Linked DNA regions of Homo sapiens. The protein of the gene in region 1 interacts with the protein of each later gene in a pairwise test. Each region holds a gene or a part of one and is shown in the gene's direction. Other genes may lie near its edges.

The links.
Region 2: the proteins of MAP1A (region 1) and HTR2A interact in a two-hybrid assay, tested with the Homo sapiens proteins (one study listed by IntAct).

The regions. Positions count from the first base shown.
Region 1 is NC_000015.10:43,527,496-43,531,246, forward strand, and holds part of MAP1A (microtubule-associated protein 1A), read left to right. Parts: coding exon 1-2,013; intron 2,014-2,154; coding exon 2,155-2,375; intron 2,376-2,573; coding exon 2,574-2,729; 3' UTR 2,730-3,751. UniProt on the Homo sapiens protein: Structural protein involved in the filamentous cross-bridging between microtubules and other skeletal elements.
Region 2 is NC_000013.11:46,834,435-46,838,185, reverse strand, and holds part of HTR2A (5-hydroxytryptamine receptor 2A), read left to right. Parts: intron 1-2,546; coding exon 2,547-3,349; 3' UTR 3,350-3,751. UniProt on the Homo sapiens protein: G-protein coupled receptor for 5-hydroxytryptamine (serotonin).

The DNA.
Region 1 (3,751 bases):
GCCGAAACACATCTGCAGAGAAGGAGCTTTCATCTCCTATCTCACCCAAGAGCCTCCAGTCTGACACTCCAACCTTCAGCTATGCAGCCCTGGCAGGACCCACTGTACCCCCAAGGCCAGAGCCAGGGCCAAGTATGGAGCCCAGCCTCACCCCACCTGCAGTTCCCCCCCGTGCTCCTATCCTGAGCAAAGGCCCAAGCCCCCCTCTTAATGGTAACATCCTGAGCTGCAGCCCAGATAGGAGGTCCCCATCCCCCAAGGAATCAGGCCGGAGTCACTGGGATGACAGCACTAGTGACTCAGAACTGGAGAAGGGGGCTCGGGAACAGCCAGAAAAAGAGGCCCAATCCCCAAGTCCTCCTCACCCCATTCCTATGGGGTCCCCCACATTATGGCCAGAAACTGAGGCACATGTTAGCCCTCCCTTGGACTCACACCTGGGGCCTGCCCGACCCAGTCTGGACTTCCCTGCTTCAGCCTTTGGCTTCTCCTCATTGCAGCCAGCTCCCCCACAGCTGCCCTCTCCAGCTGAACCCCGCTCGGCACCCTGTGGCTCCCTTGCCTTCTCTGGGGATCGAGCTCTGGCTCTGGCTCCAGGACCCCCCACCAGAACCCGGCATGATGAATACCTGGAAGTGACCAAGGCCCCCAGCCTGGATTCCTCACTGCCCCAGCTCCCATCACCCAGTTCTCCTGGGGCCCCTCTCCTCTCCAATCTGCCACGACCTGCCTCACCAGCCCTGTCTGAGGGCTCCTCCTCTGAGGCTACCACGCCTGTGATTTCAAGTGTGGCGGAGCGCTTCTCTCCAAGCCTTGAGGCTGCAGAACAGGAGTCTGGAGAGCTGGACCCAGGAATGGAACCAGCTGCCCACAGCCTCTGGGACCTCACTCCTCTGAGCCCAGCACCCCCAGCTTCACTGGACTTGGCCCTAGCTCCAGCTCCAAGCCTGCCTGGAGACATGGGTGATGGCATCCTGCCGTGCCACCTGGAGTGCTCAGAGGCAGCCACGGAGAAGCCAAGCCCCTTCCAGGTTCCCTCTGAGGATTGTGCAGCCAATGGCCCAACTGAAACCAGCCCTAACCCCCCAGGCCCTGCCCCAGCCAAGGCTGAAAATGAAGAGGCTGCGGCTTGCCCTGCCTGGGAACGTGGGGCCTGGCCTGAAGGAGCTGAGAGGAGCTCCCGGCCTGACACATTGCTCTCCCCTGAGCAGCCAGTGTGTCCTGCAGGGGGCTCCGGGGGCCCACCCAGCAGTGCCTCTCCTGAGGTCGAAGCTGGGCCCCAGGGATGTGCCACTGAGCCTCGGCCCCATCGTGGGGAGCTCTCCCCATCCTTCCTGAACCCACCTCTGCCCCCATCCATAGATGATAGGGACCTCTCAACTGAGGAAGTTCGGCTAGTAGGAAGAGGGGGGCGGCGCCGGGTAGGGGGGCCAGGGACCACTGGGGGCCCATGCCCTGTGACTGATGAGACACCCCCTACATCAGCCAGTGACTCAGGCTCCTCACAGTCAGATTCTGATGTCCCGCCAGAAACTGAGGAGTGTCCGTCCATCACAGCTGAGGCAGCCCTCGACTCAGATGAAGATGGAGACTTCCTACCTGTGGACAAAGCTGGGGGTGTCAGTGGTACTCACCACCCCAGGCCTGGCCATGACCCACCTCCTCTCCCACAGCCAGACCCCCGCCCATCCCCTCCCCGCCCTGATGTGTGCATGGCTGACCCCGAGGGGCTCAGCTCAGAGTCTGGGAGAGTAGAGAGGCTACGGGAGAAGGAAAAGGTTCAGGGGCGAGTAGGGCGCAGGGCCCCAGGCAAGGCCAAGCCAGCGTCCCCTGCACGGCGTCTGGATCTTCGGGGAAAACGCTCACCCACCCCTGGTAAAGGGCCTGCAGATCGAGCATCCCGGGCCCCACCTCGACCACGCAGCACCACAAGCCAGGTCACCCCAGCAGAGGAAAAGGATGGACACAGCCCCATGTCCAAAGGCCTAGTCAATGGACTCAAGGCAGGACCAAGTAAGTATATCATGAAACTTGGCAGAGAGTGTGGGTTAGGGCTGGGTGTGGGCTGGTCAGACTTCAGGAGTGGGACAGAGGGGAAGGTTGCCAAAAGGGTTCTACTTTTCCTCTACAATGAATCCTGGCTTGTCTCTACAGTGGCCTTGAGTTCCAAGGGCAGCTCTGGTGCCCCTGTATATGTGGATCTCGCCTACATCCCGAATCATTGCAGTGGCAAGACTGCTGACCTTGACTTCTTCCGTCGAGTGCGTGCATCCTACTATGTGGTCAGTGGGAATGACCCTGCCAATGGCGAGCCAAGCCGGGCTGTGCTGGATGCCCTGCTGGAGGGCAAGGCCCAGTGGGGGGAGAATCTTCAGGTGAGTAGCAAAGGACACCAAGGAAGTAGTCTGGTCAACGCTCACTCAGAGGCAGTAGTGGAACACAGTCCCTATTTATTAAAGGATGGGCCTTTTCTAAGGGCAGCAGAGCTGCTTCTGAGACCATGAGGTGCCCCTTCCCCCTCACCTACCTTCCCTTTATGTTCTCACATCAGACATATCTTATCTCCCTTCTAGGTGACTCTGATCCCTACTCATGACACGGAGGTGACTCGTGAGTGGTACCAACAAACTCATGAGCAGCAGCAACAACTGAATGTCCTGGTCCTGGCTAGCAGCAGCACCGTGGTGATGCAGGATGAGTCCTTCCCTGCCTGCAAGATTGAGTTCTGAAAGAGCCGCCCTCCCTTCCCCAAGGATCCACTCCCCCAGCTCCTTTAGAGAATGGCTACTGCTGAGTCCTTTGGGGTTGAGGGAGATGGGAGCTAGGGGGAGGGGAGGGAGATGTCTTGTTGTGGGGACTTGGGCTGGGCTAAATGGGAGGGGTTGTCCCTCCCCATCATCCATTCCTGTGAGGTGTCTCAAACCAAAGTTAACAGGGAGAGGATGGGGGAGGGGACAAATTAGAATAGGATAGCATCTGATGCCTGAGAACCCTCTCCTAGCACTGTCAAATGCTGGTATTGAATGGGGACTGAGGATGGGTCTCAGAGAGCAACCTCCTCCCTCGTAGAGGGAGATTATATCCCCAACTCCAGGGACCTCTTTATCTCAATCTATTTATTTGGCATCCTGGGAGGGATTTCCAATAGTAATTTATGTGACCTGGGGCAGGATACCGTCAGTGAGGTGCCCAGAGCTGCACCCTTTCCTCCATTTCCCATCCCCCATCTCCTCAACCACCAGGGTCTGAGTTCTAGCAGGGTCCTGGGGGTATCCCACTGCTATACTGTTCTACTGCTTCCCTCAGTATCTGAATGTCTCAATTTAAAACTTGAAGCTCTTTAGACCAATAGACTGGTGAGAGGAGAAAGGAGCTTATCCCCCAGACCCTGCTTTATACCATTCACATCCCAGGGCTGTGTCCAGACAGCACAAAACGGCAAGGAGAGCCCAAGCCCCAATGCCAGAATTCTTCCAAACTCCCTGACTCTTTGAAGTTTTTACTCACCCCATTTCAATTATCCTGATCCCTTCTCATCCCCTGCTTGGCTTCTCTGCATGTGGTCATCTGCTGTGGCTTGGTGTTTAATGGGTTAAAAATAAGCCACTGCCTGACATCCCAACATTTGACACCCCAGCAATGTGTGACTCCCCCAACATTCCACTATGCCATCCTGCAGCTGAAATGGGAACACTGGCTGCCTCTCCAAACCCGCTCTTGGACAGAGGATCTGGGAGGTGGAAGCCAGGCC
Region 2 (3,751 bases), on another chromosome or scaffold:
CATGAGTACAGGAAATATCTTTCACAGATCTAGATTCAAACACTGGGAGAAAAACACTCTTCTTAGAAATCATGCCCTTACTTTTACAATCAAGAGTTTTCCGAAGGATAAGCAAAACTGGTCAATATCCAGGGTCTCAGAGGATGTTCTCCTTGGAGGCACAGCTCATCAATCTCTTCTTGAATGTTGCAAACAATGGGCCAGGAACAGAGAGGGATGGAGGAAATGAAGAGTCATTAGCCACAATAAGTGTCCTTATGAACAGCTCTGATGTCATTTATCTCCACCTTCCAAGAATCCTGGATGGGCTTGCATAGGCAAGTGACAAATATTGTTAATTAAGTCTTTGAAGATAATGGCAAATGTCACTAAGAAAGATTTGTGTTGAATATTACATCAACTCAGCGTTCTTTCCTGGCCACGATGGCCAATGTGAGGTGACATGAGGTTAGGACAGTCATGCCTGTGCTTGGATGAAGCGGAACTCTGTTCTGAGTATGCAGAAGTTAGATTAGAGATTCTCCAAAAACCTTTTTCCAGATGGATGGCAAGAGTGAGGCAGTGGCCCCCAATTCTGGAATAAACCGGTGTTCTTGGCTGGTGTGAGACCATGTATTAGACTCTAAAGACGGTCAGAAGCAGTAACCACAACACTCTTTGTTCTACAATTCTGAGTGTGCTGATAATATGGGCAGGAGTTAGAAGGGAACTATTTTTCTGACTTTTTCTCCCAGGCTGTCCCTGCAATATCTACCATTTCATGAAAGAAACAATCTTAAACTAAGTTATACAGAGTACTTGATTCATGTTTCCTCTCTTTTTTATCATCCTGATTCTACCTTTATGGCAGAGAGAATAAGCCATCTCATGATTGCCTTGGACCAACCATCCCAGGCCAGTAGAGAAAGATACACCTATTTCCCCAGGAGCAGAGAGGTTGTCCATGGTGGGGGCTGGGTGGTGAAACTGCACAACATGGCCAGTTGAATCTTCCTTTAAAAAGGTCCTATCATCAAGTGGGGCACATAGCATGATTAGAGGCCAGGGGTTGCCTTTATTCACTTCTGCTTCCTCCTCTGCCTAATCCCTGTACCTGAGGGAGCCTTACAGATCCCCCAAATCTGGGTGATGGAGCAATGAACCATATAGGCCCATGTTCCCCTGTATTATCTCATCCTATACCTACTTTTTATATTTGTCAATAAAAAGTCTATGGCTGTCTTGTTTTTTGCAATCCATCCTTATGAATGCTCTACTACTAAAAACATAGAACAACCTTTATGGGACAATTGGAAATTTGAACACTAACTCTACATTTAATATTAAGGAAATATTAAACTTCTATTTAGGAGTGAGAATGGTATTGTGAAAATATTAGGTTTGTCTAAGAGTGCATGGCTTTTAGATCTACGTAATAAATATTTTCAGATTGAATGACATGATGTCTAGGATTTGCTTCATAATAACATGGGAGGGATGGCAGCCAGAGGACATATGGATGAAACAAGATTGGGCTTGAGCTGATAATCTTTGAAGCTGGGTGACGAGTTCACTGTACTGGGTTTGGTTTTTGGTTTGTTAGTTGTGTGTATGTTAAAAATGTCCCATAATAAAAGCTTTTTTAAAAAGAATTAAAATTGGTTATTTTAAATTAATATTAGAAAATTGTATTTCTCAAAAATATTTTATGTGCAATTATCATGATTTATAATGTTAAATGGAATAGGAAGATCTAAAACATATAAGGTACAAAGTACTGCATGTAAAGTACTGCATATACACATTTGCTTTTATATGTACATGTAAGTGGAAGAAGAAATGATGCAAATGTAAATTATGGTTGCCCCTGACTGGTGAGAATACATATTATTTTTCTTTATTCATTGTTACATTTTTGTACCTCCCAAATTTTCTAGAGAGAAAATAAACTATATTTAAAATTTTATAGTTATTTTTATATATAAGCCATGCTTGTGACATATTATTAGATTTTTTAAAAAAGATACAGAACTATTTGTGAAAAAGAACCTCAATTCTGTTTTAAAATGTGTGCACATGGTAAGTGTGTGAATGTATCTAAAATGAACAGCATCAAAAAAAGAAACAAATCTATATTCTAGATTTTCATAGACAAAAATAAATAAATATATAAATAAATAAAATGAACAGCATCAGTTGTTAATTGTGGCTATCTCTAGATGGTGACGTTATTGGACAATTTTTAGTTTATTTGCCTCTCTGTGTGTTTCTTCAATTAATAAGTATAATATTATAATCAGAAAAATGTGGCATAAAAAATAAAGCTAGATTTATTATACTTCTTTATAAGGGTTAGCTATATAGGGCAATATAACATACAAGTAACTACATAATATATACTTACAAAACACATATGTAAGTCCAAAGGAATTTTAAATTCTCAAAGTATGTTAAGCTTTTAAACGATGATATAAAATCTTTTCAATAGCCAATATTATGTGATGATGCTCTTGCCTTCATATACTTAATTCCTTAATAATCATGTTTCATTTTCTGTTCAACTCCAGGTATATCCATGCCAATACCAGTCTTTGGGCTACAGGACGATTCGAAGGTCTTTAAGGAGGGGAGTTGCTTACTCGCCGATGATAACTTTGTCCTGATCGGCTCTTTTGTGTCATTTTTCATTCCCTTAACCATCATGGTGATCACCTACTTTCTAACTATCAAGTCACTCCAGAAAGAAGCTACTTTGTGTGTAAGTGATCTTGGCACACGGGCCAAATTAGCTTCTTTCAGCTTCCTCCCTCAGAGTTCTTTGTCTTCAGAAAAGCTCTTCCAGCGGTCGATCCATAGGGAGCCAGGGTCCTACACAGGCAGGAGGACTATGCAGTCCATCAGCAATGAGCAAAAGGCATGCAAGGTGCTGGGCATCGTCTTCTTCCTGTTTGTGGTGATGTGGTGCCCTTTCTTCATCACAAACATCATGGCCGTCATCTGCAAAGAGTCCTGCAATGAGGATGTCATTGGGGCCCTGCTCAATGTGTTTGTTTGGATCGGTTATCTCTCTTCAGCAGTCAACCCACTAGTCTACACACTGTTCAACAAGACCTATAGGTCAGCCTTTTCACGGTATATTCAGTGTCAGTACAAGGAAAACAAAAAACCATTGCAGTTAATTTTAGTGAACACAATACCGGCTTTGGCCTACAAGTCTAGCCAACTTCAAATGGGACAAAAAAAGAATTCAAAGCAAGATGCCAAGACAACAGATAATGACTGCTCAATGGTTGCTCTAGGAAAGCAGCATTCTGAAGAGGCTTCTAAAGACAATAGCGACGGAGTGAATGAAAAGGTGAGCTGTGTGTGATAGGCTAGTTGCCGTGGCAACTGTGGAAGGCACACTGAGCAAGTTTTCACCTATCTGGAAAAAAAAAAATATGAGATTGGAAAAAATTAGACAAGTCTAGTGGAACCAACGATCATATCTGTATGCCTCATTTTATTCTGTCAATGAAAAGCGGGGTTCAATGCTACAAAATGTGTGCTTGGAAAATGTTCTGACAGCATTTCAGCTGTGAGCTTTCTGATACTTATTTATAACATTGTAAATGATATGTCTTTAAAATGATTCACTTTTATTGTATAATTATGAAGCCCTAAGTAAATCTAAATTAACTTCTATTTTCAAGTGGAAACCTTGCTGCTATGCTGTTCATTGATGACATGGGATTGAGTTGGTTACCTATTGCTGTAAATAAAAATAGCTATA